Linked DNA regions of Homo sapiens: regions 1 and 2 are each linked to region 3. The links come from fine-mapping of genetic effects on gene expression. A gene starts in region 3. Each other region holds a variant in brackets. All regions are shown on one strand. Distances are from middle to middle. Region 1 overlaps SCLT1 (sodium channel and clathrin linker 1). Region 2 has its middle 47 kb from the start of C4orf33. Region 3 holds the start of C4orf33 (chromosome 4 open reading frame 33).

The links.
Region 1: its variant is fine-mapped to the expression of C4orf33 in whole blood (INTERVAL, PIP above 0.99).
Region 2: its variant is fine-mapped to the expression of C4orf33 in thyroid (GTEx, PIP above 0.99). The same link has a PIP of 0.9 or more in esophagus muscle.

The regions. Positions count from the first base shown.
Region 1 is chr4:129,002,138-129,012,883 of GRCh38, reverse strand. SCLT1 (sodium channel and clathrin linker 1) reads left to right here. Exons shown (of 21, transcript NM_144643.4): 6 at 9,008-9,143. Among named protein-coding and RNA genes, the nearest start is that of SCLT1, 86 kb to the left of the region's middle. The variant TG/G (reference allele first, on the strand shown) is at 6,346.
Region 2 is chr4:129,137,609-129,148,354 of GRCh38, reverse strand. It overlaps the pseudogene ZSWIM5P3. Among named protein-coding and RNA genes, the nearest start is that of C4orf33, 47 kb to the right of the region's middle. The variant G/T (reference allele first, on the strand shown) is at 4,632.
Region 3 is chr4:129,089,319-129,100,064 of GRCh38, reverse strand. It overlaps C4orf33 (chromosome 4 open reading frame 33), which reads right to left and starts at 3,913. Exons shown (of 6, transcript NM_001099783.2): 1 at 3,856-3,913. It overlaps SCLT1 (sodium channel and clathrin linker 1), which reads left to right and starts at 6,526. Exons shown (of 21, transcript NM_144643.4): 1 at 6,526-6,995. The coding sequence starts at 6,962. RefSeq lists an enhancer at 6,262-6,831.

The DNA.
Region 1 (10,746 bases), 87 kb after region 3:
GATGGAGGAAGATTTACTAAGCAAATGGAAAACAGAAAAAAAGTAGGGGTTACGATCCTAGTTTCTGACAAAAGCCAAAAAGAGCAAAAAAAAAAAAGAAATGGCATTACATAATGGTAAAAGGTTCAATTCAATTCAACAAGAAGATCTAACTATCCTAAATATATATGTACCCAACACAGGAGCACGCAGATTTGTAAAGCAAGTTTTTAGAGACCTTCAAAGAGACATAGACTCCCATACAATAGTAGTGGAAGTCTTTAACACCACACTGAAAATATTAGACCAATCATCAAGAGAGAAAATTAACAAAGATATTCAGGACCTGAACCCAACAGTGGATCAAATGGACCTGAGAGACATCTATATAACTCTCCATCCAAAAACAACAGAATATACATTCTTCTCATCACCACATGGCACATGTTCTAAAATCAATCACGTAATCAGAAGTAAAACACTCCTCAGCAAATGCAAAAGAACAGAAATCATAACAATCTCTCAAACCACAGCACAAATTAGAAGCCAAAACAGAAATTTGCTCAAAACCATACAATTACATGGAAGTTGAATAACCTACTCCTGAATGACGTTTGGGTAAATAATGAAATTAAGGCAGAAATCAAGTTCTTTGAAACTAATGAGAACAAAGATACAACATACCAGAATCTCTGGGACACAGCTAAGGCAGTGTTAAGAGGGAATTTATAGCACTAAGTGCTCACATCAAAAAGTTAGAAAGATCTCAAGTTAACAACCTAACATCACAACTAAAAGAACTACAGAACCAAGAGCAAACAAATTCCAAAGCTAGCAAAAGACAAGAAATAACCAAAATCAGAGCTGAACTGAGGGAGATTCAGACACAAAAAAACATCCAGAAGATCAAAGAACACAGAAGCTGGTTTTTTGGAAAAATTAATAAAATAGACCATTAGCTAGACTAATAAAGAAGAAAAGAGAGAAGATTCAAATAAACACAATCAGAAATGACAAGGAGATGTTACCACTGACCCCACAGAAATACAAACAACCATCAAATAATATTATGAACACCTCTATGCACATAAACTAGAATATCTAGAAGAAATGGATGAATTTCTAGACACATACACCCTCCTAAGACTAAACCAGGAGGAAATTGAATTACTGAACAGACCAGTAATGAGTTCTGAAATTGAGGCAGTAATAAATAGCCTATGAACCAAAAAAGCCCAGGACCAGATAAGTTCACAGCCAAATTCTACCAAATATACAAAGAGCTGGTACCACTTCTACTGAAACTATTCCAAAAAAAAAATGCTTAGGTATTCCTAAGCAAAAAGAAGAAAGCTGGGGACATCACACTGCCCAACTTCAAACTATACTTCAGGGCTACAGTAACCAAAACAGCATGGTACTGGTACAAAAACAGGCACATAGACCAATGCAACAGACCATAAAACTCATTTTATGAGGCCAACATCATCCTGATACCAAAACCTAACAAAGATACAACAAAAAAGAAAACTTCAGGCCAATATCCCTGATGAACATAGAGACAAAAATCCTCAACAAAATACTGGCAAATGAAATCCAGCAGCACAGCAAAAATCTTATCTACCATGATCAAATAGGCTTTAGCCCTGGGATGCAAGGTTGGTTCATCATATGCAAATCAATAAATGTGATTCATCACATAAACAGAACTAAAGACAAAAACTACATGATTATCTGAAATGAAGCAGAAAAGGCTTTCATTAAAATTTAACATTCTTCATGTCAAAAAGTCTCAATAAGCTAGGTATTGAAGGAACATACTTCAAAATAGTAAGAGTCATCTATGAAAAACTCACAGCCAGCATCATATGGAATGTGCAAAACCTGGAAACATTCTTCCTGAAAACTGGCACAAGACAAGGATGCCCTTTCTCGCCACTCCTATTTGACATAGTATTGGAAGTCCTGGCCAGGGCAGTCAGGCAAGAGGAAGAAATGTAATCCAAATAGGAAGAGAGGAAGTCAAACTATCCGTATTTGCAGATGGCAGGATTCTATATCTATAAAACTTCATAGTCTTGGCATAAAAGCTTCTTAAACTGACAAACAACTTCAGCAAATTCTCAGGATACAAAATCAATGTGTAAAAATTACTAGCACTCCTGTACACAAAAAAACAGTCAAGCCAAGAGCCAAATGAGTAACGCAATCCCATTCCCAGTTGTAATAAATAAATAAACACACAAACTACCTAGGAATACAGCTAACTAGGAAGGTGAAAGATCTCTCTACAAGAAGCACAAAATACTGCTCAAAGAAATCAAAGATTACACAAACAAATGAAAAAATGTTCCATGCTCATGGATAGAAAGCATCAATATTGTAAAAATGGTCATACTGCCCAGAGCAATTTATACATCTAATGCTATTCCTATTAAACTACCATTGAGATTCTTCACAGAACTAGAAAAAACTATTTTAAAATTCATGTGGAACGAAAAAAGAGTCCAGATAGCCAAGGTAATCCTAAGCAAAAATAAGAAAGCTGGAGACATCATGCTGCCTGACTTCAAACTATACTGCAGGGCTACAGTAACCAAAACAGCATGCTACTGGTACAAAAACGGGCACATAGACCATTGCAACAGAATAGAGAACCCAGAAATAAAGCCACACACCTACAACTATCTGATTCTCGACAAACCTAACTCAAGCAATGGGGAAAGGACTCCTATTCAATAAATGGTGCTGAGATAACTGGCTAGCCATGTGCAGAAGATTAACAAACATTAACTTAAGATGGATTAAAAACTTAAATGTAAAACCCCAAAGTATAAAAACCCTGGAAGACAACTTAGGCAATACCATTCTGGACATAGGAGTGGGCAAAGATTTTATTAAGAAGATACCAAAAGCAATTGCAATAAAAGCAAACATTGACAAATGGGATCTAATTAAACTAAAGAGCTCCTGCACAGCAAAAGAAACTATCAACAGAGTGCACAGACAACATACAAAGTGGGGGAACATTTTTGCAAACTGCATCTGACAAAGGTCAAATATCCAGCATCTATAAGGAACTTAAATTTACAATAAAAATCAAACCTTATTGAAAAATGGGCAAAGCACTTGAACACCTTTCAAAAGAAGACATACATGTGGCCAATAACCATATGAAAAAAAGCTCAACTTAATTAGAGAAATGCAAATCAAAACCACAATGAGATACCATCTCACGCCAGTCAGAATGGCTGTTAAAACATCAAAAAATAACAGATGCTGTTATGGTTGCAGAGAAAAGGGAATGCTTTTACACTGCTGGTAGAAACAGAAACTAGTTCAGCCACTAGTGGAAAGCAGTTTGGATTCTTTTTTTTTTTTTTTTCTTTTTGAGACAGAGTCTCACTCTGTCGCCCAGGCTGGAGTGCAGTGGCGCGATCTCAGCTCACTGCAAGCTCCGCCTCCTGGGTTCACACCATTCTCCTGCCTCAGCCTCCCAAGTAGCTGGGACTACAGGTGCCCACCACCATGCCTGGCTAATTTTTTTTTATTTATTTAGTAGAGATGGGATTTCACCATGTTAGCCAGGATGGTCTCTATCTGCCTCATGATCTGCCTGCCTTGGCCTCCCAAAGTGCTGGGATTATAGGCGTGAGCCACCGCGCCCGGCTTGGATCTCAAAGAACTCAAAACAGAAGTGCCATTTAACCCAGCAATCCCATCACTGGATATATAACGAAGTAATAGAAATCATTCTACCATAAAGACACATGCACTCACATGTTCATCGGAACAGTTATTCACAATGACAAAGACATAGATCAACCTAGATGCCCATCAACAGTGGACTGGATAAAGAAAATATGGTACATATATACAATGGAATACTATGCATCCATAAAAAAGAACAAGATCACGTCCTTTGCAGGAACATAGATGGAGCTGGAGGTGATTATCCTTAGCAAACTAACAGAGAAACAGAAAAGCAAATACTTCATGTTCTCACTTATAAGTGGGAGCTAAATGATGAGAACACATGGACATGTAGAGAGAAACTACACACACTGGGGCCTATCAATGGGTGGAGGCTGGGAGGAGGGAGAGGATCAGGAAAAAGAATAATGAGTACTAGGCTTAATACTTGGGTTGAAAATAATCTGTACAACAAACCTCAGTGACACAAGCTTACCTATATAACAAACCTGTACATGTACCCCTGAACTTAAAAGTTAAGTAAAAAATAAATTCAAAAAAATTTAAAAAGAAAATATGGAACAAAATGTGGTAGTGAAAAGAACTAAAATTCGTGTAATTTGAATCCCAGAGAGAACAGGAAAGACAGAAATAATATTTGAAGAGACAATAGCTGAAAAATTTCAAAAGTAGCAAAAGATCTGTGGATTAAAGAAACACCATGCATCACAAGCATGATAATGCAAAAACATCTACAAAATCAAAATCAAAGAAAAATTCTCACAACAGAGATTATCCTCAAAGGAATAGCAGTAAGATAACTGACTTTTCAACAGATGTGATAGAAATCGAGAGACATGGAATATCTTCAAAGTGCTGAAAAGAAAAGAAACCAAAACTGTCAACTAAGAATTGTGTGCTCAGCGAAATGTTCTTCAAGAAGGAGGGTTAAATAAGTACATTTTCAGATGAAAACTGAGAAAATTACCGTTGACAGAATTAATCCAAATCCCAAAAAAGAAGGAAAAATCATCCTAGAATAAAGTTTGGAACTATGGAAGGGGTAAATATGGGAGAAAATCTAACGAGTATAAACTTTTAAAAATAATAATAATGGCTTTAAAATGTTTGAGGAGACTTGAAATATGAGCCAGCAATACCGTACATTTAGGAAGAGTGTAAATGGAGTTGAGATAGTCTCAGGTGCTTACATTATCCATTAGAAATAGGATACTAATTTATAGTAGAGGGTGGCAATTCTCAGAGGCATGTTACGATGTCTGGGCTGAGCACTACAGTAAACTAAAAGATTCTATCACTTCCAAGCTCATGGAGCAGGAAAGTGGAATAATAAAATGTAATTAATTCCAGTTAATAAGAAAGAATAGGAACAAAAAGAGAGGTGTTTTGTTTTGTTTTTTTAAAGTCAAGACATATAGGAAATACTAAGGTAGTAGATATAAACCCAGATGCCTTAGTAATTGCATTAAATTTTGCTGTACTACATGCTATAATTTTAAGAGTGATTTACCAGAGATTAACTAAATGAACCCACAATTACATGCTTTTAACCAAGGAGATTCGTAAAATACAAGAGTACAGAATGGGTGAAAATAAAAGGATAGAAAATATGTATACCATGGAAGTGCTAACTGAAAACATGCTGGTAATATCAGACATAGTAGAATTTAATGTGAAACAGATGATTACAGATTAAAAGGCGGTTTCCATAATGATACGAAATTATATTTGCCCAAAAGATATGACAGTTCTGAATGTGTAAGCACTCAATAACAAAGACTCAGAATACAAAAATGTGATAGCACTGAATGGCAGAACAGACAAATGCACCATTATAATAGGAAATATGAGCAGGTTGCTCTCAGTAAATAAAATAGCAACCAGAAAAAAAAACAGTAAGTTAAGATGCAATATTTGAATAATGCAATTAAGAAATCTCTTAAGGGACATATATAGAATACTAATACCGAAGACCTTCAAAATATGCATTCTCTAAGTACACGTGATAGTTTTCTGAAATTGACCAACTCAAAAAAAAAGCAACTCTCAGATTATAAAAGGATTGAAATTATTCAGATTATGTTCTTTGATGACAGTGAAAATTATGCTAGAAATCAATAATAAAAAGGTAACTAGAAAATCCTCAGCTTTTTCTAAGTTAAGCAGTATGCCTCTAAATGTTACTCACAGGTCAAAGAACTCACAATGGAAGTTAGAAAATATTTTCAACTGATTAATAAAGAAAATAACATAACGTCGGCGTTGCCACTAAGGCGATTCTTAGAGGGAAAGCTGTAATCTTAAGAGTATGTATTAGAAAAGAAAGTCTAAAAATAATGATGTCTTAGAATTTGTTGAAGAGGTTAGAAAAAGAACAGCAATCTAAACCCAAAATCATATAACACCTCGGGAACAGAGCACACTCGGTGAGAGACAGCAAGCATTAGAAACGCAAGATTGGACATCTATTCCCCAAGTATGCCAGATACTGAAGCAAACAAAATTAAACTATGTATAGGTAGTCCTTCCTTTGTATGAAGTGTAAGATTAAAAAAATGACCTTGCAAGCTGAAACTGTACAAAATTATCTTAATAATCAATGGGGGACAATTACGATATTTCTGTGACCTTTAAATTTTTTTTTTTTTTTTT[TG/G]AGACAGAGTCTTGCTCTGTCGCCCAGGCTGGAGTACAGTGGCTTGATCTTGACTCACTGCAACCTCCGCCTCCTGGGTTCAAGCAATTCTTCTGCCTCAGCCTCCTGAGTAGCTGGGACTACAGGCACACGCCACCATGCCCGGCTAATTTTTGTATTTTTAGTAGAGACGGGGTTTCACCACATTGGCCAGGCTGGTCTCGAACTCCTGACCTCGTGATCCACCCACTTCGGCCTACCAAAATGCTGGGATTACAGGTGTGAGCCACCGAACCTGGCTAAAAATTTTAAGACCCTAAAAACTGTCTTACTGTCAGTTATAATTATACTGCTTGTTATAACTACATTTTTTTATTAAATGAATTTTTTTTATTATACTTTAAGTTTTAGGGTACATGTGCACAATGTGCAGGTTAGTTACATATGTATACCTGTGCCATGCTGGTGTGCTGCACCCATTAACTTGTCATTTAGCATTAGGTATATCTCCTAATGCTATCCCTCCCCCCTCCCCCCACCCCACAACAGTCCCCAGAGTGTGATGTTCCCCTTCCTGTGTCCATGTGTTCTCATTGTTCAGTTCCCATCTGTGAGTGAGAATATGCGGTGTTTGGTTTTTTGTCCTTGCGATAGTTTACTGAGAGTGATGATTTCCAATTTCATCCATGTCCCTACAAAGGACATGAACTCATCATTTTTTATGGCTGCATAGTATTCCATGGTGTATATGTGCCACATTTTCTTAATCCAGTCTATCATTGTTGGACATTTGGGTTGGTTCCAAGTCTTTGCTATTGTGAATAATGCCGCAATAAACATACGTGTGCATGTGTCTTTATAGCAGCATGATTTATAGTCCTTTGGGTATATACCCAGTAATGCAATGGCTGGGTCAAATGGTATTTCTAGTTCTAGATCCCTGAGGAATTGCCACACTGACTTCCACAATAGTTGAACTAGTTTACAGTCCCACCAACAGTGTAAAGGTGTTCCTATTTCTCCACATCCTCTCCAGCACCTGTTGTTTCCTGGCTTTTTAATGATTGCCATTCTAACTGGTGTGAGATGATATCTCATTGTGGTTTTGATTTGCATTTCTCTGATGGCCAGTGATGATGAGCATTTTTTCATGTGTCTTTTGGCTGCGTAACAAAGAAATAAGACACTTTAATTCTCAGTGTTTCTGATATTTTAAAGTACAGTGTACTAAATATTAATTTTACTATTTTTTCATTTCATTTTACAATCAATTTAAAGGATTAGGATAATTGATAAGTTATGATGCAGATAACCATATGATGAAAATGATGGAATATTATGTCATCTTTAAAATATTTGCAGAAAACTTTTTAGAATGTGAGAGAATGCATATGTCTGAATACTACGGTTAAAAAGACAGATTATAGTATTAGCAATACAGTATGTCATTGGTCTATTTTTAATGGAAAGTAAAAATTCTGCTAGAAAATATATTACAGAATTAATAATGGTTTTTTTCATAGGACTTGGGGTATCTTTTCTAAAACTTGTTATATTTCTATACTGATCATTTTCTCTATTAGGTAAACATTTCATATAGGAAAAATAAAAGTTTTTAAAAACACTGTTAGATATTTAAAAATAAAAACTGTCTTAACCAATACTTGTAAGTTTTTTAATTAGAGAATAATTTTCAAGCTCTGTCCTTTCTTCAGAGTAATTAATTTTTTTGTTTCTAAAGTGTTTACCTTCTCAGTTTTATTGTATTTGATGAATTTTGTTTTCAATAAATATGTTTTGACATCAAGATTTAAGTTTTCTTGTTTCAAAGGAGATTTGTAATATTAGTAAATCATTCACCTCTAAATGTTTTAGGTAGATGGATGTAGTTTATTTTGTTATTTTCACTTTGTAATGTATTTACTATAAATATTTTCTGCTTATGATTATATGAAATAAGAGTGTTTTCTGAAAATGTACTTTTTTTCTCTTAAGTATGTATTATTTTAAATTAAAACAATCATTCTTTTAAGTTGTACCTTCCTTGCTTTTTTTTGTAGTTAAGGCATGAAATATCTGTAATTTACCTTAATGTTAAGATTAAAGTCAATTTTAAGCCTTTCAGTATTATTGTTGATCTTATATAAGGATGTGCTGAAAAATAAAGCTTCTGATGTCTTGGTTTTATAGCCAGCGACCATTTTCTTCTCTTTGCTTGTTAACTGGAATTAGTAAGAAGTCCAGTGAGTTTGGTGAAACACGCTGAAGAAAATAGCAAATAATTCTACAGGATTTAATATATAATTTTCATTTAATTGACTAGATATACATAGATATTTTAGAATTTTTCTGAATGGCTTATTTTATCATTTAATAAGAGATAATATCTGAATTTTACTCTTTTGAAAATTTTTGAAAAATTGAAACCTCTCTAGGACAAACTGAATCATGCTTCAGTTAATTGTGATCGATTTAATGCATTGAAATTGTTATATAATCTTTTGATTCTTATAGCACAGTATTTAATGGTAATTAAACACTTCTAATTTTTTATTTGAAGTCTACTTAAAAATGATTTTGTTTAAAGAGTTATTGTTGACCCAAATGTTTAATTGACCTCGAAACAGTAATTACTGTTACGAAAATGACTTGAGGCTATCATGTTAACTATTTGTTTCAAAGGTTGCACAGTGAATTAAAAGATGCTGTTGAAAAAAAATTGGAGGCCTTTCCCCTGGGCACAGAGGTAGGAACTGACATATATGCAGATGATGAAACAGTCAGAAACCTTCAAGAACAATTGCAGCTAGCCAATCAAGTGAGTGACATGTATTTTTAAAAATTATATTCTGAATTAACATACCTTTTTAAAAATTCATGTTAATCATTATTTATGGATAACAAAATAATAAAATTGTAACATTATGATTTTTTACAGTTTATAAGAATCGTTACAGGTAGCAACACTTGTAATAAATACCCTCACTGTTAGAAACGTACTTGCCAAATACCCTCACTGGTTGTTACAAATGTGTTTAATTAAAATCATAAAGATTTTGACGTGAGTTTTTTTCTTATGAGAATATTTTTTCTTTCTTTTTTTTCTTTTTCTTTTTTTTTTTTTTAATTATACTTTAAGTTCTAGGATACATGTGCAGAACGTGCAGGTTTGTTATATAGGTATCACATGCCATGGTGGTTTGCTGCACCCATCAACCCATCATCTATGTTAGGTATTTCTCCTAATGCTATCCCTCCCCTAGCCCTCAACCCCACAACAGGCCCTGGTGTGTGATGTTCCCCTCCCTGTGTCCATGTGTTCTCATTGTTTAACTCCCACTTATGAGTGAGAACATGCAGTGTTTGGTTTTCTGTTCCTGTGTTAGTTTGCTGAGAATGATAGTTTCCAGCTTCATCCATGTCCCTGAAAAGGACATGATCTCATCCTTTTTTATGGCTGCATAGTATTCCATGGTGTATATGTGCCACATTTTCTTTATCCAGTTTATCATTGATGGACATTTGGGTTGGTTCCAAGTCTTTGCTATTGTGAATAGTACTGCAATAAACATACATGTGCATGTGTCTTTATAGGAGAATGATTTATAATCCTTTGGGTATATACCCAGTAATGGGATTGCTGGATCAAATGGTATTTCTAGTTCTAGATCCCTGAAGAATTGCCACTCTGTCTTCCACAATGGTTGAGCTAATTTACACTCCCACCAACAGTGTAAAAGTGTTCCTATTTCTCCACGTCCTCTCCAGCACCTGTTGTTTCCTGACTTTTTAATGATCACCATTCTAACTGGCATGAGATGGTATTCTATTGTCATTTTGATTTGCATTCCTCTAATGACCAGTAATAATGAGCTTTTTTTCATATGTTTGTTGCCTGCATAAATATCTTCTTTTGAGAAGTGTCTGTTCATTTCCTTTGCCCACTTCTTGATGGGTTTGTTTTTTTCTTGTAAATTTGTTTAAGTTCTTTGTAGAGAGAATATTTTAATGTCAATGAAAATTTTTAAAGGAAAAAATCCATTATTTCTCTAAATTTGTATTTTTCAGTGTTCTTTTTTCTGATATTGTTTTCAGAATATTAAGAGTACTATATTTTTCTAACATTATATTTCTTCTAGAATTATACTTTTTCTTTTTCTCTCATAGTAATTAGAATCTTTGAGCAGCTATGTTAAATATATCCTGTTTTTCAACTAATTTTTTGTGAATTTTATTCATAAGGGAATTGTATTTAAATTTACAGTGTTATATCCCAAATGTTTCATATCTTGTATGGGTTTAAATCCCCATTCTTCTACTTTCCAGGTGTGTGATCATAGAAAAAAACTCTTGTGCCTCAGTTTCCTCATTTATAAATGGGGGCTACAAATTCTAAATTACAATTTTGATTTGATAATTAT
Region 2 (10,746 bases), 48 kb before region 3:
TAATCCCGTTGCCCAAGTAATGTACATGATACCTGATAAGTAGTTTTTCAATGCTTGTCCCCCACTTCCTTCTTCCTCCCTTTTGGAAATCTCAATGTTTATTGTTCTCATCTTTGTTTCCACATGCACCCAATGGTTAGCTCCCACTTGTAAGTTAGAACATGTGGTATTTGGTTTTTTTTATCTATTTTAATTTTCTCAGGATACTGGCCTTGTGCTGCATCCATGTTGCTGCAACGGACATTACTTCATTCTTTTTTATAGCTGTATACTATTGCATGGTGCATAATTACCTCATTTCCTTATCCAATCCAAGATTCATGAGCACCTGCTTTGATTCCATGTCTTTGCTGTTGTGAATAGTGCTGCAATAAACCTATGCTTATAGGTGTCTTTTTGGTAGAATAATTTATTTTCCTTTGGGTATATACCCAGTAATGGGGTTGCTGACTCAAATGGTATAAATCTATTATTAGTTCTTTGAGACATCTCCAAACTGCTTTCCACAGGGGCTGAGCTAATTTGCATTCCCACAAACAGTATACAAGGGTTCTCCTTTCTCCATGACTTTGACAACATCTGTCATTTTTTGACTTTCCAGTAATAGCGATTCTGATTGGTGTGAGATGGTATCACGTTGCGGTTTTGATTTACATCTCTCTGATGATTAGGTATGATGAACAATTTTTTGTATGTTTGTTGGCTGCTTTTATGTCTTCCTTTGAGAAGTGCCTATTCATATCCTTTGTCTGCCTTTTTCTTATTAAATTACTTATAGATTCTATACATTAGTCTTTTGTTCTATGCAGTTTGCAAATATTTTACTCCATACTATAGGGACAGGTATATTTAAGGGAGCTAACTGACTGGATCCTTCACAGGCAGAGTTCCAATATATTATGAATCTCTGAAACAGTCACCTAATTTTCCCTAAATTAGTCAGTGAAGTCCATAAATTTTAAAAACACAAAATATCTACATTTAAAATCTTTCTTCAAAAGCTATAGATAACTTGTTAGAACTAAGCATCACAATACTGCTGTACAATTTTTAAAGGGGCACAGTTTTAACTTATAGTTCCTAGAACTTCAAAGAACACTGTCAATTTAAATTTAGTGCTTTGCAAATACCACTCAATACCTGAAATAAAACAATTATCTGTATTGACTATGTGGACTAACATTTTCACATGAATTACTAATTAATATTGTTTCATGGATAATTTTCTTACATGCTTATCAAATATAGACTGTTCATTCCAAAAATCTCAATTCCGGTTCACACAATCTTTGGCCCAGCTTTCTGAGTCATTAAATTTTTCAGATACTCATGTTGAATAAGCTGAGGTATTTGGAAACTCCGAGAAAAATAATAGCTACTGTAAGAAAACATGGCCGCATATCATAATGTGTGTTCTTCATTTTTCTCACTGTTGGCACTCAAAATACAAAATCTCTAACCTTCATACTTCTAGAGTTCATTAAAAGGTTGCCCTGGTGCCCCCTGATGGTGCTGGGGGATCATTGAAAATTGGAGCATTCACTTCCATTAGTAAGCCTCAAGCCCCAGGTTTAAATGTGAGAGTTACAGGCCTGTGTATCACTGGTGTACTGTTCCATGTTGTGGTAGTTTTATATTCCAACTACCAAAATGAGACAGGAGATCAAATACCATGATATAAGTGAAGCAATGTGTTTCTTGTTCCCTTGGTCTTGATGTAATTAAGCTCAAATAACATTTTTACCAATATCCTCAAGGCAACGAATACTTCATTGCATTTTTTAAAATTCTATTAGTTGCATTAAAATGTTTTTACCCATAGCAAAATTTCTACAAAAAAAAATTTTGAAGAATTGCTTGTTGTGACTTAATACAGGTACATTACCTATGCAGTACATACAAGGTTTACCAACATAAACATGTTTTTATTCATTCCACAAACAAGTTTTGAGAATAGACTATATGCAGCTGCTCACTAGGTTCTATAAAGGAGAGTCAAAGAGCTAAAGATGTAATCCCTGCCCTTAAAAAAGTTATAATCTTTATTATTAGGGGAAAAAAACAAAATGCACATCTACAAACTAATGAACAGTTCAAAAAAGCATTAAGAACCTGATTGGAATACACAGAAAAGTAATAAAAACATAGAGATAAATATGAGTTGTAGTAGTCAGAAAAGCCTCCTGGTTTGGGAGGCCAAGGTGGGCGGATCACGAGGTCAGGAGATCGAGACCATCCTGGCTAACACGGTGAAACCCCGTCTCTACTAAAAACATAAAAGATTAGGCCGGTGTGGTGGCAGGCGCCTGTACTCCCAGCTACTCCCGAGAGGCGGAGGCAGGAGAATGGCGTGAACCCGGGAGGCGGAGCTTGCAGTGAGCCGAGATCGCGCCACTGCACTACTCCTGCCTGGGTGACAGAGTGAGACTCCGTCTTAAAAAAAAAAAAGAAAAGAAAAGAAAAGAAAAAAAGCCTCCTGGAACTTGAGCTGCACAAGAAAGGAAAATACATATATTTAATGTAACTATCTTATGGATGCTTATTTTGCCTATTTTAATTTCAATTTTTTTGAAAGCTGAAAGTAATCGCCTCAGTTAGCATTTATTGCTCACATTCTATGCTAGCTGCTGACTTTTATGTACCCTCCCAAAATGTAATAGAATGTTGTTCTGACCTAGGTATATATTGAATGCTTAGCAAGTGCTAATCAATTAATAAACATCATGACTTTTTTGTTCTAGATGATGAAGTTACAAAAACAAGACCTGTCCCTTGGACTTAGATGACTCACAATCTAATGGAAAAACACACAACTGTGAGCAACATGTGAGAAAACAGCATGAAAAGTGCCTTAATAGAAGTAGGGGCACACAGAGCACGGGGCCTCTAGTTCTGATGGTGGGAGCTGCAAGAGCGAGAGTGTGGCTGACTGCCAGGGTTACTACCTGAGACTGTCACTATAGCAGTTACTACTGTTACTGCTTGGGACCGTCATTACAAGACTGAAGGAAGGGACGAACGCAGAAATGAAAACTTAATACAAAAGAAACTGTTTTAAAGAAGACATGAAAACTTAAGACAAAAGTAACTATTTTAAGGAAAGGCTAGCATGGGGAAGAAGAGAGAAGGAGAGAAGAAAGACTCCCTGCTTCTAATGAGCAAAGGCAGCCGCCTAAGCATCTACAGCCCTTATTGGGTAACAAGAGCAGGGAGGAGGAGGTAACGATTGGTCAGCTGCTTAATTGATCACAGGTTCATATTGTTACTAACAGGCTTCAATTACGCCTAATCGTAGGAACCACTTGCGCCTGGGTTGTGACTGACCTCAGCAGTCTTTCTGGGCGGCAGACGCAGTTTGTCAGTTTGCCAACATTCTGCATTTATGAGAACAGTTTGTTGCTTACTCATGTAGCCTCCAGTGGTATACTGAGTTGATCACGACCCTCACTCTTTCCGCCTCCAACACGGGAGTGCCAGCAAAGACCTCACAGGATGTGCAGGAACAGAACAGGAAAGGAAACAGTTATGTTACAAATGGAGGAAATAGCATGAACAAAAGCCCAGAACCATGAGATAGCTGAGGGGAGATAGGAGATAAACGGAGCATAAGGGACATGGTGGATGGGGCGTGATGAAAGAAGTGATGTTGGCAGAAGGGGTGCAGATCACTGAGCTGACATTCGAGTTTATGCTGAAGCCATGTGGACCACTGAAGGTTGTAAGCAGGGAATTTACTGACAAGTTTTATGTTTTAGAAAAATCACTATGGAAGATGTATAGAAAAACCAAAACACTCTGAGAAATCTGAAGTCTTAATCCAAATTTATTTTATTTATTAATTATTTGTTTCTATCCCGATTTCTCCTAACTACACTGGTAAGGTTTTATTTTCAAAGTTATAGTCTTTATTTCCAATGGTTCTTATGCAATGTTTATAAGACAAAAGGATCTTAAAGAATACAATTGAACTCAATTCAATAGAACTCTATTTTCTCGCTACAACATAATACTTCTTGAATTTCCTAGTGCAGAATACATTCAAGTCTTTTAAATTATTCATTCCCCATTATGTAGAGAAAATTAACCAAACTGACTCTGACTAAAGAAAAGAAAACAAAATTTAAAGCCAAGAATAAATTATGATAAAACATTGGTCTAAACAGCCATTTAGAAAACTATCCCATCGTAAAAGCAGAAGAAATTTGTGTGCAAAAAAGTTTAAAACTCCATATAGTCAGTGGTATGATTGTTCATTTGCTCCTAAACATTCCCAAATTGTGCCTAACTCTGAGCTACTTTTGCTTAGAAATAGAATTAGAATGATTTTTAAAATGTATTCTATTTATTTTTTTCCTCTTTTTATAAATAGATTATGTTCTTTCTAACATCCCAACATGGTCAAAGGCATTCTTCTAGCAACTCGCAAATTTCAGTAAAACTGTCACCTTCAGTAAAAGTTCAAAATGTCAAAATAATTTTAAATTTAGTATGAAATTTCACTTGTTTTGCTATGTAGTTTGGAAATATCAAATGTTAACCAGAAAATGTATGAAACACAATAAAAATGAGTATGTGTGGACAAATAAGACATTTTTAAAATTCTGGTAATCAAATGTTCTCTGGTATGAAAC[G/T]TCTTAAGCAAGATTCATATATATATGAATATATATGTATATATATACACACACACACACATACACACAAAAAAAAAACATTTGTAGACACCCTAATGCTCAACTGCTGGTGTATTCTAAAATAGCTTGATGCTTACCAAATTCTCAACTGCTTAGTCAGCTTTCTGTTAAATTTATGAAATTCCCACTTTATGCCAGCACTACATAAAACAGAATTTGACCCAATGAGTTGATTTTTGTTTTTTGTTTTTTAAATTAGGTTTCCACAGAGGAATATCCTACAACCTATAGTAACAAAGAGGTTTTATTTGGCCAAAAACGGTATGATTCCTGAAAGGCAAAATCAAATTTCTCTAAACTGAAAGAAATACACTTCTAAAAGTCAATAAAGGAGCAGATAACACTCTTTTAATGGACAGGTTTTGTTCAGCTATATAACCTTTTTCTGACAGATTTCATTTTTAAAACTCTCTACAGGAAAATTACTAATGATTTTCAAATCAGAATAATAGGAAACCAAGCAACATTAAAGTTAGGGCTGAGTTGTATCAGAATTAGAGAATTTTATTTCAAGATGTTCCCCTTTCATCTATAAGGGCAAAGAATTACAAGAGTTGTGCGATTATATTAGGTCAATAGAATCAATGTAAATACACAGTTTGGGTAAGTAGGCTAAAAACTCCTTGCTGTATCATTTCTGTAGGCTAAAAACTCCTTGCTGTATCATTTCTTCAACTGTAGGATTTTACATTTTGCCCACCTTTTTTCAAATAGTTGCCTCTATTCGCTACCTTGCCTACATATACAGGGCCCTAAAAGATAAGCAATAATTCATGTAGGTTTCTGTGGCCATTTTTTTTATCCTTCTGACAAATCCATTTGAAATTATATATTTTTATATCTAATACTACCACTGAGTTATGATATTTAAAGATTTTAATTGTAGATAGGCAGAAAATATCGTAAAATCAAACTGGCATCTTCTCTTAGTAGGACAATCAGCTTATATTTTATAAAGGATATGAAGGGTCAGCAAAATAAAATTATTAACTTTAATTAGGTTCAAACATGGATGATGTAGGTATGTTAAAATCACTAGGATATTTACTTTGAATCCAGAAAAATTAGCATATAGAGAGAACTATTGATACAAGTTACTTTTTATAATAAAAAGTGAGGTTTATAATCAAAATTTATTAATTTGAAATGATATCTATATAAAAGTATATATATAATTTTTAGGTAATCTAATAATCCTATATAGTATCACACATATATCAAATTTAAGTAAGATTTAATGAACAGCATTTTTACCCAGTAAGATGTAAAATAATATTTAAGTTTTAACTACATCTTACTTGTAAGCAAGATATAGAACAAAGTACGTAAATGAGACTTAAAATTATATAAAGTCTTTACTCCAGAGCCAAAAAAATTATATAGTCTCCTATGTGTAATTTTAGCAATTAAAATGGTGAACTAGATACAAACAATATCATAGGAAAAATGTAAAAATCTGAATTCGGAAAAGAAAAAGTTACAAGGTCTTCATTGGGTTATACAAAATTATAATACTGTAAAGCTTGTCCCACTATAGAACAAGGTGATCTCTGAAATTACAAGCCAGTGAATTCAGAACTATAAAAAGGAAATATTACTTCATAACCTTTAGTTAACCTATAGCTACACTTCCACAGAAGGTCATAAAATCACATTCTGTGGTTGGATTTAAAAGCTGGATAATTTTATAGCCACTCATAATATCAGGGCTCAAGATCATTGCCTTTAGTGGCTGGAATAGAATTCTTTGATCATCCATATGAATATACTGCTAGGTAAGGAGGTAGATAGTAAAACATGCAGCCTTACGGGTTAAATATTGGTTTCTTGGAGTCAAATGACAATGTTTACCACCTTTGTCTTCTTTTAAGCATGCTTAAGATTAGTGAAGGTGAATAGAAGCCACAGAAAGCTGCCTTTGTAAGTCAAAACGTATATTTCCCTTGTGGAATCTTCCCAACAATTGATAGAACCATGTGTACAGTAAGCCTACATCTGATAAAACACTGGCATCAAATGGAAGCTAGAATTTCCATTTCCAGGTTCTTTCAACCTGGGTGACCTTCCATTTCCAAGCTGAAACTTCACTTTCCCAGCATCTAAGGTGCTTCTCTTAGATGGTACCTTAGTTTGTAAGTATACTTCCTGTATCTATCATCTGCTTAAAAAGTACCACTTACAATGTCCTCTCTACGCAAGCTTTTAAATTATTTTAAAATGTACTATCCTTTCATCTTTAAATATTTTTTAAATTGTCGTTTCCTGCCTCTGTGCCTTTGTTCATTCTGCCTCTATCACTGTAATGCTATTCTCTGTCCCTCCTACTTCAAGGATCCAGTTTCTTCCTGAAGTGATCCCTGATGTTCTCAGATAAAAGTGATATTCCAAACCTCCCTCCCCACCTACCATGTACATCCCAAATATTATATCTGTGATTTTGATATTTATCCATCTCTACCTTATTCTAAGAGTATGTGTAAATTCATTTGGCTTACCTCTTGCTTAGCTCTCTTCTAGAATGTAAAAATTTTATAAATAGGAGCTGTACCCAAGTCATTTCTTGTGTGTTTCACAGCACCTAGTCCACTGTCTTCAACAAGGGCAATACTGTGTGCTTCCTTGGCAATAATGCATGCTAAGAATTACTTTGTGGCATACCTGTTATGGATGTTTTTATATAATTCTTACCTTTCCTCTTCCAGCTGGCAATTGTTTTCTTTCTTGGTTACTTTTGAAATTTCCAGTAATCAAAATAATAAAAAGAAAATTAACCTCTACAAAAATACAGTTCTTAGATCCAGTATTCACGCAAAAAGAATAATGCAGTAAAAATAGATAAATAAAAGCATGCTGAGGTTGTCAGTATTTTAAACACAGTTATGTGGTGTTTCTTGGTAGAGTTGAATGAAGCACCAAAAATATCATTTTGTTAACCTGCTTCTTCCATCTAGTGGCAAAAAGCAGGAAGAAACAATGTCCTAGAAAAACACCACGATCAAATGGTTCTAAATGCCATTTCAGGAAATACTGATGATAAGAGTTCAACATTCAAGGTTTAAATGATAAGTATATGATAAGTATTTTAAAATAATTTTAGCAAATTGATAGTGCTCAGCTAGGATAACTGTCAAAGTTACTTAAAGTCATACATGTATTTGCATGCTTTCACAAAGACTTCAACTACATATGTAAAGCTATGTATCACCCCACATTAAATTGAGATGGATTTATTTTGGTATACATAATTATGGATCTGGAACAAACTGTTGGATAACTATTTAGAATGCCATTATTTCCTCAGCTATAAGCACATGGCAACCATGCTGTTATAAGTTTTAAGAGGTACAATTGAGAACCACTGCAATTGGACTTCACCATTGGAATTGCCAGTGAAAATATTTCTGCAATAATAGGCAGTGAAAAATTTTGTGACCTGAGGCATAGGGTCAGTTGGAAGGGGGAGAGAGGGAAAGTTTAAAGGAGGTACAATCAGCTGCTCTGCATTGTTAGAGCTGCTTCAAAGACATTAATGAAAAATAATATGCAATGGACAGCATAATTGTGCATTCTCTGCACTAAAAGGCCACCAGCTTATCCCTAATACATAAGGTTTGACTGCCCTTCTAACATTTTCTGTTTGCCTCACTGCAAATGTAATTAATGTTTTAGAAGTTAAATGTGGGTTATGCAGAAGTGGAAAGAATGTTCTCCAGGACAGCAACTTTTTCCCGTTCTTCTTTTCAAGTGAACAAGTTAACCATGTGTAATGGTGATAAAAATAAAAAGCCGTCAAAGTATTTAATATGTAAAGACTATAAGGGAAAATATAAGTGTCCATGAGTATCATAATTATTTTAAACTCAGTTTTTAATAAAAGAAAATAAACTTTTTGTTTATTTCCTAATTTTTAAGAAGAGAAAACCTTGTGTCTTCTGATCTCTGAAACCCTTTCCCAGATGAATAGGGACCAGCTACAAAAGTTCATTGAATATTTAATCACGGCACACCACCACACTGAAGTTCTTCCTACCGCACAGAAACTGGCAGATGAGATTCTATCCTCCAACTCAGAAATCAACCAAGTGAACAGTGCTCCTGACCCCACAGCTGGGGCCAGCATTAACAATGAGAACTGTTGGCGTTTGGATGAAGAAGAGGTGAAAGAACAAGTGAAGCTTTTTCTCTCCCAGGGGGCTTAGTATGGCTCTGGAAAGCAACTCAACTCAATATTTGCCAAGGTTCGAGAAATGCTGTGGATGAGAGATTCCAATGGAGCAAGGATACTGATGCTAATAACTGACCAGTTTATGGCTGACCCATGACTCACACTCTGGAGTCAGCAAGGAACAAGCCTGACAGGTAAAGTCAGGCAACTCTGGCATGAGCTAGGGCTCTATGGGTGTGCATAACTTTAAATCCACACTGCAAACTGGAGGAGAAATCCTGCTGGCTGCAGCTGCTGCAGAAGTGGAGCGACCTGGATGTCTGTCCCCTGGAGGATGGAAACTATGGACATGAGCTGTCCAACATCACCAATGCACTTCCCCAGAATGCCATTCACAGCCCAGACTCCTTATCCAGACCAAGATGAACGATATTCACAAGGGCCATTGAGGGCCATGAATTACACTGACAGGACAGCCACCTACAGCGAATAATCAGCAGTGATGTTTACACAGCTCCTGCCTGCCGGCAGGAAAGTGAAAGAGTACTCTTTAATTCCCCAAGCCAGCCACTGTGCCTTGAGCATGTGCCTACAGCCTGTGCTCAGGTTGATTCCCTACGTTCCCATGGTTATCCAAAAGAGGCCCTCAGACTCACAGTGACCATTATTAATACTCTGAAGCTGCAGCAACAGCGGCAACTGGAAATCTGCAAGCATCAGAAGAAAGAATTGTTGCAGAGAGGAACGACAACCATCACAAACCTGGAGGGCCAGGTGGGCCACCCCCGATCCCATTGGCTGCCTGTTTCTCACTTTGACCGAGGCCTGCTGCCTGAATGATGACGGCTATCTGGAGATGTCAGATATGAATGAAAGCAGACCCCCTGTGTACCAACATGTACCTGTGGCTGCAGGCTCCCCAGACAGTAGTAAGTCCTACCCGTCATTGGCCCTGGAAGTTGCATTGATGGACCTGGGTCGACAGAGGATAATGCCTGAATACCTCTACGCACAGGACAAGGTGTCCCATAATGAAGAGCAGCTCCTAAGCCAACTCCAAGAGCTGCAGCTTGACGATAAGCTAGTGCAAACACTGCAAACAGTGTATCTTACTGCTGGAAGGGGGCCCTTTCAGCAGTCTGGGAGAAGTCATTCACTAAAAGAGTGTTCCCATGCATACATACCTTTGCCAAGTATTTGTTCTCAGCTCTGCTGTCTCATGGTCCAGACCTGTCCTATAAATTAGCCTGACGTGCCATGAGGTTACCTGCTTTAGAAAACTCAGCTTCTGGCCAGGCACGGTGGCTCATGCCTATAATCCCAGCACTTTGGGAGGCTGAGGTGGGTGGATCATCTAAGGCCAGGAATTCAAGACCAGCCTGGCCAACATGGAGAAACCCCATCTCTACTAAAAATACAAAAAAAAAAAAAAAAAAAATTAGCCAGGTATGGTAGCAGATGCCTGTAATCCCAGTTACTCAGGAGGCTGAGACAGGAGAATCACTTGAACCCAGGAGGCAGAGGCTGCAGTGAGCTGAGATCATACCATTGCACTTCAGCCTGGGCAAAAAGAGTGAAACTCCATCTCAAAAAAAAAAAAATGAAAGAAAGAAAACTCAGCTTCTGTAGGTGACACATCCCACCCTCACCATATGGAATCACAGCAGTGTGAACCGGCCTCTGCCATGCTGACTGCTGCCAAAAGAGACACTGAGATTCTGAACAATTCTGGAAGCAATACAGAATCAAAGCACATTCATTCTTCCTTCCTCATCTTCAAACTGGCCCAAATGCATTCAAGATTGCTATTCCCACTGACAGTAGTACTGACAGCACCCTGCTCAACGTGGCCCTGGGACTTGGTTTACAGGTGATGCAGATGACCTTATC
Region 3 (10,746 bases):
TGCAAAAAATAGTGACTAGACTTCCACAAGTAGGGAATAGTGCATGGCTGATCAGTCCAAAGACAGAATATAATTTTGGCTTTAATTGCATAAACAACTTTCGTTTCTTATTGCAATGACAAATTTGTTTTTTTTTTTAAACTTTATATCGCTTAAAGAACACTGACGTCAATCTAAGAATGCATAATATTTATAAAAATTAACCTAAAAAGTATAGTCCGTCCTGCCCAGTAGTTAACAGTCTAGTTTAAAACTAACATAAACTAGAGACAGATGATTCTCCCTCTGTAATCTTCTGAGATTTAACCCCCACAACCTTTCAATTTCTTTGTATTTGAACATGTGTTCATTAAGTAAAGACAACTTAATTGTCAATGTCCTTCACCTCTTGGGCTAGCGCTCCCCTCCTGGTCATTCTCTATTAACCTATACACTGCTCTATTTCTATTCTTACATGGCAATTACATGGCATTACATATTTGTTTATTGACTCCCTGAACCCAGCTAGAATGCCTATAAGTGATGGTTACTATTTATTTGTTGAGTGAATAATTTTTCTAGTCCCTGGATCTAACACTCTAGATTTTGTGCAGGAGAAATCTACTGTGTTCGTGGTATCATCATCTCATTTAACACTACATATCAGATCAATACAATGGCTAATAACAAAGATAATAAGCCCAGAAATTCCCTTCAATTTAGTTTATCAAGCATTTATTAAGCACTCATCTTATTTCAGGTACCATACCAGGTGCTGGGGAAATAATATATAATAAGTCTACAGGAGTTTGGGATGGTTCTCATGTAACTAATCAATGAGGTACCCGTTTCCAACATCAGTTGGTTCATTTTGCAGTCCAATTTAATTCAGTGGGATCCTTATACCAAAGTAAGTTTTAGATGAATCAAAGATTTAAACATAAAAATCAAAATCATATAAAAACAGGAAATAAAAAGAGAGTTAAATAAAATCTTATAGTAGTAAGGTAGGAGATGAGCTGGGCTTGTTTTCTGAGCACCAAGGTCCCACTGATTGAAACAGAATCTTATCAAAACAAGATGCAGCAAAGAAACTGGCCACAACCAGCTAAAACCAAGATGGCAACAAAAGTGATCTCTAGTTGCCCTCACTGCTCATTATACATTAATTATAATGCAGTAGCATGCAAAAAAAAACTCCCAACAGTGGCATGACAGTTTACAAATGCCATGGCAACTCCTAGAAGTTACCTTATATGGTTTAAAAAAGGGAGGAACTCTCAGTTCTGGGAACCCTTCCTACTTTTCTGGAAAATGCATGAATAACCCACCCCTTATTTAGCATATAACCAGGGAATTGTATGTATACAGCTGGCCAACAATTCATGGGAGCTGCTGCTCCTACTCTGTCTATGGAGCAGCCATTTTCCTGTAGTTTGTTGCTCTGATAAACTTGCTTTAGCTTGTGAATCCTTTCCTGCATGAAGCCAAGAACTCTCCTGGGCTGAGCCCCAAATCTGGGCTTTCCCTGCATTAGTAGAGAAAACCTTTTAAAATACAAACCAAAACCCAAACATTTTACTACATAAATATAGCAAAACTAACATGGATGCAGCTGGAGGCTATTATTCTAAGCAAATTCATGAAAGTACAGAAAACCAAATACCACATATTTTCACTTATAAGTGGAAATTAAACAGTAGGTACTCATGGACATAAAGATGGCAACAACAGACACTGGGGACTACTAGAGGGGGGAGGGAAGAAAGGGGCAAGGGTTGAAAAACTAACTACTGGGTACTATGCTCACTACCCAGGTGATAGGATCATTCGTACCTCAAATCTCAGCATCATGCAATATAACCATGTGACAAACCCGCACATATATACCCTGGATCTAAAATAAAAGTTGAATTTTTTTAATAATAGATAAATAATAGTAAAAAAGCAAAAACCTCCTTCCCAAGTTCCCTTTACTCCAAAAGCCTATCATTAACAAAATCAAAAGTCTGGGGAAAAGTATATGCAATTCATACTTGATACAAATAACTAATTTCTTTAATGCACAAAGAGCTCCTAGAAATCAATAAGGAAAAGACCAACACTCCAACAGAAAAGTGACCAAAAATTATGAACAGCCAGTTCACGGAGAGAAAATGCAAAATGTTCACTTATAATGACAGAAATGCAAACTAAAACCACAATAAATTACCATTTTTCACTTAGATTGGCAAGGATCAGAAAGTCTGACAACAAGCTGTGTTAATGAAGGCATTGAGAAAAAAATCATTTATTGCTAGTGAGGCATAATTGATATAGCCTCTGTGAAGAGCAATACGTCAATATCTATCAAAATAAAAATGCAACTATCCTTTGACAAAAATAAGTCTAGTTCTAGGAGTTACTATACCTGCACATATTCAAAATGACATAAGCGTTGAGGATATTTGTGGTAGCATTGTTCATAATAACAAAATGTTGGAAGCAACTTAAATACCCATCAGTAGAGGACTGGTAAAAAAAATTATGCTATACCATACAATGAAACACTGTATAACTGCTAAAATGAATGAGGCAGCTCTGAATTAACATCTATGCTAAAATATGTTGTGAAGTGAAAAAAAGCAAGGTGCATTTATTTAATAAAAAGGAAGCTTATTTGCATATATGCTTGTGAGGCATACACTATCTCAGGAAACATCCAAGAAACGAGTGGTAACAGTGGTTGCTTCCCTGAAGGGAATTATCTGCCTGCAGATATGGGAAGGAGGAAGGCTTCCTTTCAACTTCATCACTTTTTAAAAACCTATCTGCATTTTACACTATGACAGACATGCATTACTATTTTAAGGTAACTGAACAGTTTAAAATTATTTTTTGGCCGGGCGCGGTGGCTCACACCTGTAATCCCAGCACTTTGGGAGGCCAAGGCAGGCGGATCACAAGGTCAGGAGATCGAGACCATCCTGGCGAACATGGTGAAACCCCGTCTCTACTAAAAATACAAAAATTAGCTGGGCGTGGTGGCACGCGCCTGTAGTTCCAGCTACTCGGGAGGTTGAGGCAGAAGAATCGCTTGAACCCGGAGGCGGAGGTTGCAGTGAGCAGAGATCGCTCCACTGCACTCCAGCCTGGCAACAGAGCAAGACTCCGTCTCAAAAAAATATATATATTTTAAGTCTAATTTAAGGCCGGTTCTCTTAAAAAGAGTATGGTGGCTGCCTCTTCTCCCCTTTATATTATATATGCTGAACGTTTCCGAAAAGTCATAATGCATATTATCAAGATGATTACTGTCCTGCAATGCAATTTTAAGTTTGGCTGTTTAGACTTTCTTAATACAATATTTATTGTTACTCTGTATGTTTCTACTTTTAACCTCTATTCTTCAAATTGCTCTTAAAACAAGTTAAAAAAATAAATTTTCAATTGTTCTGATTGCTTTATCTTTACCTGGAAAGACCTCTAAAAGGAAACGAAGGAAGAGAAAGGAGACCGAACACTGGAGCATTAAGAACCCAGGAAAAGAAAAAATGTCCGCAAAGTTTAAAAGAAATAAGTTATGGTAAAGGTGTTTTCTCAACCAAATGATCTGCAAGGAAAATTTCCAAATTCCTCTGCTCAACAAAAATTTCTTTAGTTTTTCTACAATAATGATTTCTTTTCAGTTTCCATACCTCCCCGAGGCCCCGCCCATTTATCAGGGAAACGGAGAAATGAGGAAGTCAGCCTGAAAGGGGGAGTACGCTCACTTAGCAGGAGACAGCTGAAAAGTAAAATACTTTTCAGTATTTTCCAGAGATCAAGCGAAAAACAAGACCTGGCGACGACGAAAGGAATGTCAGAGAGAAGAGGGAACAACTAGAGAACACAGACCACGAAGCTTTTCTCAAACACTGGCTTCTTCTTTTCAGCCGAGGTCACAGGAGAGGGCTCGGCTTTAGGCTCCACCCAGCTGCCTACACGTTCTGGGGGAGGGGCTTAGAACACTGAAGCTAAGACGCTTGATTTTTCTAGGAAAGAAAGATGTTGAAGGGCCACACATGAACAACTGAAGACTTCTAATCGTTCCACTAAAGTATGAGTGGTTTCCTAGAAGAAGGAAGGGTGATTCAGAAATATAAATACTGTGCAATAATTTGAAAATCAACTGTAAATCATTAAGATTACAATATAACATGTACAGAAATATTTCATTTAATACAACTAAAGGCTAACTGGCCATATAAGCAAAAACTATAAATTATATTATACCAGCTATAAACTATATTATACTATATTCCTGGGGAGGCATGTTCATAGCAGTTAACAATTGTGAAATTAGAACCATACTGCCTGGGTTCAAATCTCAACTCAGGCACTTGCCAGCTGTGTGATCTGTTCTGATCCTTGCTTAAACTTCTAACTTTGTATTCTTCCTGGTACTTTGCACATAGTACTGGGTGCTCAATGTCAATTGATCAACCAAATGAATGTTAGTGAAATGTCACTAATTTTCAATCTATACAACTTTAGGGGTTTTCTTTATTGCAGAAAAGTCATATAAAAACATTAAATGGTGGCTTGACAAGAGTTACACACAAACTACATACATTTCTGCTTGTCATTCCTTGTATTCAATTTATACTAATAGATACTTTTCATGAACATCCACTGAATTCTTTCATTCCTTCCATCAGATATTTAATCAACTCTGTGTTCCAGGTATTATGATGGAGCCTGGAGACAAACTACAAAACATGACAGATAATGCAGGAAGGAGCATGAAGTAAGTACTAAGGTGGCACCTACCTTGGGAGAAGTGGATAAAGAACTCAGGAGATGTGAAAAGGAGGAACATGAGAGGGGATCCTTTAAGGATAAGTGAAATCATCACAATTTTGTTTCCTAATGATGAAACTTATGTTGAAAATACTCCATTAAAATTCAACTACTAAAATCTTGTAACCACAAACACAAACGCAAAAACAAAAAACTATCATGATCATAATTATGATCATGTAAGCTAAAAAATTCGAGTGCAGACATAAAAGTTTTCACCTGAGATATTCACTTTATGTAAATACCACTCATCAGTTATAGCCAGAAGGTATTTGCTTCCATCCAGTTTGGGTGTAAGCGTAGAGTTAAGTCTATAATTATTTATTTGATGCCAAGTAGAAATACGACAATATACAAGGTTCAAATGTGGGAGAAGTTACAAGCAAGTCCTTGGAGAGTCAGTGAGATGTTTATGAAGAAAGAGTCATATACTGAACTTCAAAAACGAGTTGGACCTTGCACACTCAATTTTCCCTTAGCTATAACGTTTATACAAAAAGTTTTTGTGTAAACGTTATAGCTACTAAAAATCAGAACAAGTTCAATTATCACCAACTCAAAGCTGGATTAGACCTTTTCAATGATTATTAAGCTACACATCCATATTTAACAGCTAGTCTTTAGAGGAAGGGACCATCTCATTCTATTAACAGTGAGTATTGAGTAAGGCCTTCAGATGCCTAACTGCATATATTTGAATACATTTTTAAAATTTCTTAACACATATCGCTAAGGTTACTTTGTTTATATGACATTATGAGTACGGGACAACAAAACTCTTAAGCCGTTAAACAGAAAGCCAAATCAAGCTGCATCTATGACATGCCTGTTTAGTGAAACTTTACTTCAGTCCATAAAAATACAATTTATTAAAAGCACAAAACTAGTGGCTAGCTTCAAGTTAACATTTTTGTTGCTAGTGGTGAGATTTCCTCTAATGTTAAATGATTTTTTTTAAAAAAATACGTTTTAAGTCCAGACAAAATTAATTTTCAAAAATGAAAATTGTAATCTATCCACAAATGTAAGTTTTACCGTTTTGTTTTTTGCAAAAAAAAGTACCTTTTATCTTTCCTTATATTTGAGGAAACAAGCTTATCTTTGAAGAAGTAGCTGCTGAATTTGCAAGATCTTTTGAGTACTTCTAACTACACGCTTTATTACTACACAGTTAAATATTTAAACAACAGTTGTCTCCTTTGTCTAAAGACCCACAAAGACCGAGAAGGTACTTACCTTCTTGAGATGACCAAATCCAAACCTAGAACTCCTCCAGAGGTACAGCCTTGGTGGGAGATTCTGAAGACGCCAGTCTGGCTTCTATCCCTAGCCGCAGGAACCTGCATCTTTTACTTAGTCCAGAAAGGCTTAGTATATTAGTAACCCAAAGATAGTGAGGGCATTTAAACTGTGTATTTCATTCTCTACTCACGTTTGCATTTTGGTTTTTTGTTTGTTTGTTTGTTTGTTTTAAAGAGGTTGGGCCTCACTACCTGGAGACACTGTCCCACCAGTTTGGCCGCCGCGCCAAGCCGGTGGCTCAGCCCGCTGTCATCCAGGTTCTCACGACTCCTCCCATTGCTTGACAGCCAGCCAATAGCGTGCTAGGACTCTAGGACGCGCGATGGCGTAAGCTCCAACGCCCGCGTGATGACGCAAGAGGCGCCACCGTCTCCAAGGAGTGGTCCGGGGCACCGGTTTCAAAGTCGCAGGGCGGGCCGAGTGGACTTCCGCTGCTGGCCTGGGGCTTCCCAGCCGTCTTGGCGTTGTCCTCTCCAACCCCCGCCGCTCCGCGTAGAACGCCGCTCTCAGGCTGCCGTCAAGCTCCCGCGGCACTCTCCTAGGTGGCCCGACGAGACCCAGAGTGACCCGCGGGACGCCTGTATCGACCGCGTCCTCTTCCCACCAGCGTGGGATTCGGTTGAACGTGGAGTCCCCAGCAATCTTCAGTCTCTCACCAGGGCCAGGGACTCGTCTGGGGCGCGGGGGAAAGAAGCGTGGCGGGGCTGTAGATGCCGCGTGAGTAGGATGCAGATTGCACCGCTGGAGCGCTTGACAACCAACCGAGCGTTGGCTTAGTTTTGTTTTCCCGCACAGCAAGCTCTCTGTCTTTCAGAGGAAGGTAAAGGTGGTGAAAGCTCTAAACTAAAATTGTATCGAAATGGCTGCAGAAATCGACTTTCTGAGAGAGCAAAGTAAGCTCCATGTTTTTTTGAGACTTCATATACAATGTTTAATATCGTCGTCGTTGACCGACAAATCTTTTTTGAATGCTGGTTGGGTACATTTAAATTGGTAAAGAGTTAAAGAAGTTAGTTGCAGGAAAAAAAAAACCTTGATGTTATACGTGAGGATGTGTGTATATTTAAGCAGAACCGTGTGGTAGTACTTGTAGCTTACACAGAATTCTACTAGACGCTAAACATGTTTGTTATGCTCCTCTCGTGCTCTGAAGATTAGAAGGCTAATGGCCAGCAGGAGTTTCCAAGTGTGCATTTAAAATCTAGGGGCACAGCTCTCTGGCCATTTATTAAAAAGATGTTTATTGAACTCCTGTTTCTATTATGTACCAGACACTATGGAAGAACAGCTGCTGCAAAGATAAACAGGACAGTTTTTACCTCCAAGAATTTAATTTGGGGAGGGAAATGTATTCCAAAATATATTGAAGTGACAGCAACTGCTGGCTCTTTTGCCACAGTCTCATAGGGTTGTTGGAAAGATTAAATGAATATTAAAATATGTAAAGGATTTAGAATAGTATCTGATACATTGTGTTAAACAAATATTAACTATTACACGATTATTATTAAAATATGTTCAAGGAAGGTGCTATTGGGCTGAAACGTGCAGTACAAATATGAATTTACTATATGAAAAACTCTAGGCATCCCAAATAGAACAATATTTGTGACACTGAGGGGATTAGGAATATGCTTTGTTAAAGACTTGCAATACGGCTGGTTTGAGTGTAATATTGATGTAAATTGAATTGGAATATTTATATAGGGAAATGGCAAGTGCAGTTGAAGGCGTAGAAAGGGGCTGGATGGTGAAGGGCCCTGTCTTCTCTGTGCTAAGGAGTATGGACCATTGCATGGGTTATAGGAATTCAGTTGAGAGTGGCATGATCAAATTGTAGTTTAGAAGGCCCGGTCTGATTTTTACGGGGAATATGCATTATAGCAGAGTGCAGTTAGTTGTCTACTGTCATCATTCAGGTAAGAAGTAAACTAAGTTGGGCACAGGGAGACTGGAGATCAGGGGATTTGAGAGAAAGAGGTAGAGAGCAACTTAGTTTTTGCTTGAGCAACGGGGAAGTTAGGAAAAAGGTAGTAAGTTCCGTTTTGGTAGCATTATAGACCAGTGGTTAAGAACTCAGTCAGCCTCTGGATTTAGTCTGTCTGGGCTCACAGCCTACCTCTTTCCAGGTCTGTGACCTCGAGCAAGTTTCCTAGCTTTTCTGCACCTCAGTTTTCTCATTTATATAATGAGTATAAGAACACAAGAATCCTCTTGAAGTTGTGAGACTTAAATGAGATGATGAAAAAGCATTGAGCATAGTGTCTGGCACATATTAAGTGCATGGTATATGTTATCTAAAATAATTAATGACACTATAATGACACAATAACATTAGCATTATTTCTTAGGTTTGCAGTGGGAATATCCCCACCCCATAAGAACAGCTAACTGGCCACCGTAAGAGTAGTGTGGGACAGGAATTGGTTGATGAGGAGTTTGGCTAGAGTCAGGATAGTACTTGAGGTGGTCAGAAACTATTAATTTTATAAGAATGATCCAGCCAGAATTCTTAGATAAAACTGAGATCCAAATACCAGGGGAAAACAAATAAGACAACTGAAGCATAGTAACATTTTTTTAAAAATGAGTGGTATTTAATAGTTCCATGGAAGACAAGTGGAGTGCAAGAAGGAAATCTCAAGCAGAAGGAGCAGAAGAAGGAATGGTTCAAAGGCTTAAAATAACTGATTTTATTCAGGAAATCGGAGCATAGAATGGTAGCGTTTGCATGAAGAGATAAGAATGAGAGTTGAGTGTCTGTGTCGCTCTCCTTTTTTCTTTAACCGGATTTTGCATGCCATTTGAAGGTGGTGGGTTATTCCATTAAGTGACCCACCTAAATACCAGCCCAGATAAAGATAGATCACTTGCCTTCTTTCCACCTGCCTCTGACTTTTTCTACACTGATTTCTGTTGATCTTGATTGTCTCTTTGTTCCGTTTGGATTTGGGAGCCCAGGTCAAGACCATTTGTTTTGGTACTTCTCAACTCATGTTTTGGTACTTCTCAACTCATGTTTGGTACTTCTCAACTCTCATGTCCCCACATGACATTTCCTCTGATAATTACTATTTCAGCTTTACATATCATAACGACAGGCAGCTCCACACTCAACCAGGCTACTAGTAGAGTAAGCTTGTAGCATATTTGCTGTGCACCGTTCTTCCACCTTTGTCTGGGAAAGATCAGTTAGTTTTTAGGAACCTGTTCAAAGAGGTACTTGCATTATCAATCTAAGGAACTAAGAATTCATTCATTAGTGGGGTGTGAGACTCACTGGCAGAGTGGTGATGGACTTATTTTTTCTTTTCATTCTCTTAATAGTGTTGGAGCCAAACATTTTTAATTTTGATGAAATTTAATTCATCAATTTGTTCTTTTATGAATTGTGTTTTTGGTGTCATAAAAGAAATCATTGCCTAACCCAAGGCTGCAAAGATTTCTTCTATATTTTCTTCTAGGAGTTTTATAGTTTTAGGTTTTACATTTAGATCTATGGTTCATACAGTTAAATTTTATACAAGGGATGAGGTAAGGATCCAGGCCACTTTCTTGCATTGGATGCCCAAATGGAAAAACTACCCTTTCTCCATTGAATTACCTTTGCTCCTTTGCAGTTGTTTATATATGTATGGATCTATTAATGAACTCTATTCTTTTCCACTGATTTATTTGTCTGTCTGGACACCAGTACCCCACTGTCTTAATTATTGCAGCTTTATAGTAAGTTTTAAAATAAAATTGGTTCTTCTGTACATCATTGATGTATCTTTTTAAATTTTCTCAGCTATACTTTGTAGTTTTTAATATTTAGGTTTTGCACATCTTTTGTTAGATTTATGCCTATGTATTGAAATTTTTGATACTACTGTAAATGGTATTATTCTTTTACTTTCAGTTTCTGATTTTTCGTTGCTAGTATGTAGAAATAACATTTCTTTTTTATTATTATACTTTAAGTTCTGGGGTACATGTGCAGAACGTGCAGTTTTGTTACATAGGTATACTCATGCCATGGTGGTTTGCTGCACCCATCAACCCGTCACCTGCATTAGGTATTTCTCCTAATGCTATCCCTCCCTTAGTCCCCCACTCCCCAACAGGCCCCGGTGTGTGGTGTTCCCCTCCCTGTGTCCACGTGTTCTCCTTGTTCAGCTCCCACTTATGAGTGAGAATATGCGGTGTTTGGTGTTCTGTTCTTGTGATAGTTTGCTGAGAATGATGGTTTCCAGCTTCATCCATGTCCCAGCAAAGGACATGAACTTATATTTTTCTATGGCTGCATAATAGTCCATGGTGTATATGTGCCACATTTCCTTTATCCAGTCTATCATTGATGGACATTTGGGTTTGTTCCAAGTCTTTGCTGTTGTGAATAGTGCCGCATTAAACATACATGTGCATGTGTCTTTATGGTAGAATGATTTCTGATTATTTGGGTATATACCCAGTAATGGGATTGCTGGGTCAAATGGTATTTCTGGTTCTAGATCCTTGAGGAATCGCCACACTGTCTTCCACAATGGTTGAACTAATTTACACTCCCACCAACGGTGTAAAAGCAAAAGCATTCCTATTTCTCCACATCCTCTCCAGCATCTGTTGTTTCCTGACTTTTTGATGATTGCCATTCTAACTGGT